Linked DNA regions of Homo sapiens. The protein of the gene in region 2 interacts with the protein of the main gene of each other region in a biochemical or structural test. Each region holds a gene or a part of one and is shown on either strand. Other genes may lie near its edges.

Region 1 (3,826 bases), about 59 Mb from region 2:
AATTTTATTCTTCCCTTCCTTTCCATGTTTAATTCTCTGTTTAATACAGTAAATAGCCACATGTGGCAATTTAAATCAGTTAAAATTAAAATAAAAAGTCAGTTTCTCAATCACAGCCACATTTCAAGTGCTCAGTTAGGCACCTGTTGCTACTGGATAGTGTATTGGAATTGGAAGTACAGACACAAATATTTCCTTTATTATAGAAGTTTTACTGGACAGCACTGCTCTGGATTTTTAAATATGGCCCCTCAGCTGGCTGATTTTTCTTTTTTTCTTTACTGTTTGCCTTTAGAAAAAGATACAATATCTAAATTTCAGAATTTGATTTAGCAAAAAATAATTTAAAACTGTAACAAAAATGACTTTTTTGTTAACTACATTATGAAATTTCGTAAGTAAACAGTTTCTGTAGACGAAGATATCAAGAACTTAACTCATTTGGTTTTGAAAGCAGCTTAATATCATGGATCACTTATAAACAGATTTTGGGTAGAACTGATCGTCTGGGAGAAATAATTATGGGAAATTTGGGGCTGTATATGAGTGTTAATCAAATGGAATACATTGCTTTCTCCTAGGAACATCGAAATCGTGTATTTCATGATTTCCGAAATGGCTTATGCCGCAATCTTGTTTGCACTGGTAAGTATTTTTGTATTTCCTTTACCCAGTGTTTTTCTCCCAAGTTGTTTTTTGCTTTCTCTGTTCATATTACATAGTGCAACCTGTGACATAGTCCGACACACCCTACCACTACTTCTAGGATTTCTGAAGTTGAAAATGAACTCTTGTCAGCTCCTGATACTGGGTTCCATATCTGAAACTTTAGAAGACTTACTCTGGCACTCATACCTCATCTCTGTCTTTTTTTTGGGGGGGGGGGGGAGGGGGATGGAATCTTTGTCACCCAGGCTGGAGTGCAGTGGTGCGATCTTGGCTCTCTGAAACCTCCACCTCCTGGGTTCAAGTGATTCTCCTGCCTCAGCCTCCCAAGTAGCTGGGATTGTGGGCGCCTGCTACCGCTTAGCCCGGCTAATTTTTGTATTTTTGGTAGAGACAGGGATTTCACCATGTTGGCCAGGCTGGTCTCGAACTCCTGACCTCAGGTGATCTTCCTGCTTTGGTCTCCCAAAGTGCTGGGATTACAGGCTTGAGTGCACCCAGCCTCTTTTAGACACATTTTTTAAAACTTGCTTACAATTACTGGAAAAAAGTAACTTGGGAGCAGAAAGTTATTTATGATAATGTGATTATGAAAGGTAATGCCAGTAATGTGCAAATGCATTTGAATAACTGAATTAAATTAATAAACTTAGGTTATGCTAGAAATATGTGTTAGTATTGTACTGAGAGACATTTCTAAATTGAAAAAATGAAAATTATCTTTTTTTTTTTAAGATCTGTTTACCCGAGGTATTGATATACAAGCTGTGAATGTGGTAATAAACTTTGATTTCCCAAAGCTGGCAGAGACCTATCTCCATCGTATTGGAAGATCAGGTGAGGAAAAAAGAGGTGATATTCTTGGTAGAAGTTCTTTTTTGAGGCGTGTAATGACTAAATTTTGTTCTTTTGTGAAATAGAGTACAGTAGCTATGAGAACAGTGAATTAACAGTAATTCAGTTGTTTGGTATTTAAGACTAATTTCTAATTCTTCTGTAGCATTTATTAAGAAAAGTTAAAATAACTGCTTAATTTGAGATGAAATTAACACATGAGAACTTCACTCATTAGGTGGTATGTTCTGTGACTGTTGTTTAATGTGTATTTTATGGCAGTTTTGACTGCCATTTTGTCATTTGAGAAAGGTGAAATGAAGTACTATTTTGGGCTGCGAAACCTGAAGTTGTAGGGAAACCTGTGTTTGAAGACCATTAAGAAGTTGTTTTGCATACTAAGAATGGCACTGAACATCATTATCAATCCTGTGTGGTTTTGCCACTGCTTGACTTGCACAATTCACATTGATTTTCATATTTTATTCATTAAAATTTTTAAACGCATGTTTTTTAGGTCGCTTTGGTCATCTTGGCTTAGCCATCAACTTGATCACATATGATGATCGCTTCAACCTGAAAAGTATTGAGGAGCAGCTGGGAACAGAAATTAAACCTATTCCGAGCAACATTGATAAGAGCCTGTATGTGGCAGAATACCACAGCGAGCCTGTAGAAGATGAGAAACCTTAACAAGCATGTACGTCCCTGACAGAACAGCTAAGAGGAACCTTTAAATGAGGGAAATCAAAATCTTCTTTCCTGGGGGAAATTTGATGTCACACCATATATAATAGCAATAAAGGGTAAAATACCCACTAGCATAAATGACAGTAAATAATATCTCTTGTGGGAGGTTGTAGTCTCATTCGAGAATCTGTAAATGTTGTTCTTGAATGCAGCTTCCCGGGTAATGTGGTAGATTAGCAGTACTTAAATTCAGAGTCCTAAAATAATGAAAGCAAAAAAGAATGTTTTTCAGCAATTTGTTTTTCTTTTTGAGACAAGGTCTCACTGTCATCCAGGCTGGAGTGCAGTGGTGCAATCATAGCTCACTGCAGCCTGGTTCTCCTGGGCTCCTGAGTAGCTGGAACTGTAGGCACATGCCACCACGCCTGCCTAATGTTTTAAATTTTTGGTAGAAACAAGGTCTTGCTTTGTTGCCTAGGCTGGTCCAGAACTCCTGAACTCCAGCAGTCCTCCTGCCTTGGCTTCCCAAAGTGTTAGGATTATAGGCGCAAGCCACTGTGCCACTGTGCCTGGCCTTTTTTGACAGTTTTGTAGGGGGGATTTTTGTTGTTTTTGTTTTTTGAGAGTCTTGCTCTGTTGCCCAGGCTGGAGTACAGTGGCACAATCACGGCCCACTGCAACCTCTGCCTCCCAGGTTCAAGCGATTCTGGTGCACCTCAGCCTCCCAAGTAGCTGGAATTACAGGCATGCTCCACCATGCCCAGCTAATTTTTGTATTTTTTAGTAGAGTTGGAGTTTCACCATGTTGGCCAGGTTGGTCTTGAACTCCTGACCTCAAGTGATCTACCCGCCTCAGCCTCCTAAAGGGAGGCTGGGATTACAGGTGTGAGCCACCACACTGCCAGCAGTTTTGAATATGAAAGTATTTACATTTCTGAAAATGTAAAATGTTTTTAGCATTTACTCTTAATTTCTAGTAAGTACATTAATCACTCTGATAAAACTATCCATAATACCTTATTAGCAAATGTTTAATCAGATTATGAGGATGGCCATCTTTTTAAAATACCCACTCTGGGCCGGGTGCGGTGGCTCACACCTGTAATCCCAGTACTTTGGGAGGCCGAGGTGGGCGGATCACGAGGTCAAGAGATCGAGACCATCCTGGCCAACATGGTGAAACCCTGTCTCTACTAAAAATACAAAAATTAGCCGGGCATGGTGACACGCACCTGTAGTCCCAGCTACTCGGGAGGCTGAGGCAGGCGAATCACTTGAACCTGGGAGGTGGAGGTTACAGTGAGCTGAGACCGCACCACTGCACTCCAGCCTGGGTGACAAAGCTAGACTCCATCTCAAAAAAAAAAAAAAAAAAAAAGCCACTTGGGCTGGCTCAGTGGCTCACACCTGTAATCCCAGCACTTTGGGAGGCCGAGGTGGGTGGATTACCTGAGGTCAGGACTTCAAGACCAGCCTGGCCAACCTGGTGAGACCCCGTGTCCACTAAAGATACAGAAAATTAGCCAGGCATGGTGGCGGGCGCCTGTAATCCCAGCTAGTCAGGAGGCTGAGGCAGGAGAATCTCTTGAACCTGGGAGGCAGAGGTTGCAGTGAGCCGAGGTCATGCCATTGCACT
Region 2 (3,826 bases):
TCAAGCTGCTTTAGAATACGAAATTATAGGGCTCCAGAATATACATTATTCCCCAAGTTTATCTCTAGAACTTCTATCATCAGGAAATATATTATCAATTTTCTATGGTATATGTAAATCTCTCATTATAATAGATAAAATAAAATGGCAAAGTTCAATACTTCACTTTAATTTTTAGTCTGCTATAGTTCTCAAATCACAGTAACTTACTTACTTGTAAAACTGGCCTGGTCTGCACTGCCCTCATAATAGCTGGATCTTCTAGTTCATTTTCAATCACCATCTTACTGAGCCTTTCTGCCAGATTCTCCTCATGGTCACCCAACAAGTCCATTTCATCTCTCTCTCCATTGCCTGTTTGTTCATTAACTGCCACTGGTAGCTTTTCTTCCAATTCAGCCAGGCGCTCATGTGCTTCCTGCCAATCATCATCTATAAGATGACACAGTTCATGTAAGAAATAGTTCATAGTGGTACAAAAAAGTTTTACACAATTATTGTTTTTTTTTTTTTAGACAGAGTCTCACTCTGTCGCCCAGGCTGCAGTGCAGTGGCGTGATCTCGGCTCACCGCAACCTCCACCTCCCGGGTTCAAGCAATTCTCTGCGTCAGCCTCCCAAGTAGCTGGAGTAGCTGGGACTACAGGCGCCCACCACCACACCTGGCTAATTTTTGTATTTTTAGTAGAGGTGGGGTTTCACCATGCTGGCCAGGCTGGTCTCAAACTCCCGACCTCAAATGATCCACCCATCTCGGCCTCCCAAAGTGCTGGGATTACAAGCATGAGCCACCACGCCCGGCCTACACAATTCTTCTGCTAAGCAAATGAATAATTCCAGAAGATAGGTAGAAAGTTAAGTTTACACTTAGAAACAGGAAATAAGGTTTAAACTAAGGGACACGTAAAGCATGCTTTTTATAAGTAAAAGCAAATAACATTATACCAGGAATAAAATTCAAACATGTGAATTAATAGCTTAAAACATTATCAATAATGTCCAAACTATATTCTGAAACTGTTTCCCAAATTGGTGATAGATATGTATAGTACTACTAGTTGGTTTTGAGATTCTATGACATTTCAAGCAAAAACTTTAAAGGGAAGTTAAAACTCATAGCATTAGCATACAACTTCCTCTTAGATTTTAAGTGCCACATTCTTTACATGCTTTTGAATCCATTCGTTCCATTCAATTAATATTTGGTAAGCATCTATTATGTGACAAGCCCTGTTTTAGACGCATGGGATACATTGGTGTACAAAAAGACACAGAGATTCTGCCTTCATAACACTTTCATGCAAGCAGGAAAGAGAGAGATGATAGACAATAAGCATAATGATTAGATACTATACCAGAAGATGAAATTGCTGTAGGAATATAAAGGAAGAAAGGCAGATTGAAAATTTAAATAGATGGTCAGAGGTAGGCCTCATTGAGAAGATGACATTTGAGCAAAGATTCTAAAGAGTAAGAGGGTTAGCAATTTGGATATCTGGGAGAAGAGGGTTCCAGGCAGAGGGACAGTCAGTATAAAGAAAGGCCTTAAGGTGAGAGATTGATGGTTTTGAGAAACGGCAAGGAGGACTGTGTCTGGAATGGAATGAGCAGGGTGGGGAGAGTAGAAGAAAATGAGGTCAAGAAGTCATGAGGAGGGAGCTCATTCTGGGCCACTATGATTGAAATGGGAAGCCAATGGAAATTTTCATTTGGCTTAACTTTTAAAAGAATCACTCTGGCTGCTGTGCTGAAAACAGGCTAGGGAAGAGGAAGGGGCATTTCCTCTTTTATCTTAACTATGTCTGCTATTACTGCACACTACTATAAAGTCTGTAGCACTGACATTAAGGTTGTTTCTGCATTTGGTATGTTGGCATCATTTTTTCTGTTTTGGAATCCCATTACAGCACAGATTACAATCTTCAGAACCCTCTATCAGCTGCTCTGGAGCTAGACCTTACTTCCAACGCATCTCACTCCAGTTCTCTCCAATCTTATTCCATTCTGCTTCCATCATGAAAGCTGTACTCACAGTTTTGCTCCATTCAGTATTTTTATTTTTATTTTTTGAGACAGGGTCTCACTGTCGTCCAGGTTGGAGTGCAATGGCGTGATCTGGCTCACTGCAGTCTCAACCTCCCGGGCTCAGGTGATTCCCCCAACCTCAGCCTCCCAAGTAACTGGAACTACAGGTTTGTACCACCACACCAGGCTAATTTTTATATTTTTTGTAGAGTCGGGGTTTCCCCATGTTGCCCAGACTGGTCTTAAGCTCCTGGGCTCAAGCAATCCACCTGCAACAGCCTTCCAAAGAGCTGGGATCACAGGCTTGAGCCACTGCCTCTGGCCTTTCTTTTCAGGTATTCAAATGTGAAACTTCTTCCTCCTCCTCAATGGAGCTACTCCTAAATAATCCTTTCATTTTATTTCTTCCTTTACCTCATCTCTATATGCATTACTTTCTAACCCACAAAAAGTATTATTTTGTATATGTTATATGGTATTCTTTTTTTAGTTACATCCTTTATATGTTTTATAAAATTCAACAGACAGGGATAACAGGTTATAACCAACACAGAAACAGAGACTTTCTTTTTTCTGCTTTCAGAGAAAATACATGTTTAAAAAATTCAAACACCATAAACACATGTAACTTAAGTGAAAGTTCCCCACAATTCCACAGCTGTGTTAAGTTTTAAACAGTTTTAAGCTGTGTTAAGTTTATAAAGTTAACTTGTTTCTTTTTATTTAAGCAATATGTCTTGGACATCTTTTCATGCATGCACACAGGCATAACTACTGATAGTAACTCATTCTTTTTAATACCTACATAAGATTGCATTTTATTGCTAAACTATAATGTAATTTATCCCCTACTGGTAAACATTTGGATTATTTACAATTTTCCAATATAATAATTAATACTGTAATAACATCATACATATCTTAGCATTTTATGTGACTATTTAAATAAACTAATTTCCTTTTAGAATCAGATTACATTAACAGTTAAAATTTGCTATATATATGTAATTTTTAATCATACAACGATGTATCACATAATACTAGTGATCCAAAGAGTGAGGGAAGTGGGACTTTCAAATATATAATTTTGGTATCATAGGACCCACTGCCTAGTTTGGTTGATTTATGTATTAGTTGTGGTAAGGGATTCCTTAAGTTGTGGATCACTGTGCCATCACTGGGATAAAGACTGTGGGCAAAAGCTATAAAAATATCCTTACTTAAGCCTCCGGGACATGGGTCTTCTTTATAATTATGTGGTATTTTCTTTCCCACCCAATAGTTTCCTCTTACCTGAGTGACTAGTCAGGTGGCACTCTTCCTCTAAACTGTCATCTTACAGAAAAGAATTTAAGGTAGCCATTTTATGATGATGGTCTCTGATAAGCCTATCCTGATGTGCTCCAAAAAATGGAAAAATCCACTTTAAATGAAAATTACAGTGTTAATTTAAATGACTAGTCATATGAAAGAAAATATTTAAAGAATAATGTAATTAAAAACCAAATGTGACATTCATATTTGTGTCATCCTTGGTAAGGAACAGTAAGCTGGGACAGGATAAATTGTTTTTTGCAACTTTACTAACTTAGCAATGCCACAAGAGTGGGAATCTATCATCCTGAATTGAGGGATTTGTAAAAACATTTACTTCCCAAATTTAAGAAGTTAATTTGTTAGTGGATTTGTTCTAATGCAGTAGAGTTCTAATTTGCATGCTTTTCTATCACTACTTCCAGTATTCATGCTTGCTAACTTTACCAAATCCTATCAAATATGGATAATCTATTTCCCCTTAATAA

The links.
Region 1: the proteins of PATL1 (region 2) and DDX6 form a complex in vitro, tested with the Homo sapiens proteins (one study listed by BioGRID).

What each region holds. Positions count from the first base shown.
Region 1 is NC_000011.10:118,753,079-118,756,904, reverse strand, and holds part of DDX6 (probable ATP-dependent RNA helicase DDX6), read left to right. Parts: intron 1-581; coding exon 582-645; intron 646-1,401; coding exon 1,402-1,503; intron 1,504-2,017; coding exon 2,018-2,193; 3' UTR 2,194-2,200; intron 2,201-3,826.
Region 2 is NC_000011.10:59,659,038-59,662,863, forward strand, and holds part of PATL1 (protein PAT1 homolog 1), read right to left. Parts: intron 433-3,826; coding exon 215-432; intron 1-214. UniProt on the Homo sapiens protein: RNA-binding protein involved in deadenylation-dependent decapping of mRNAs, leading to the degradation of mRNAs. Acts as a scaffold protein that connects deadenylation and decapping machinery.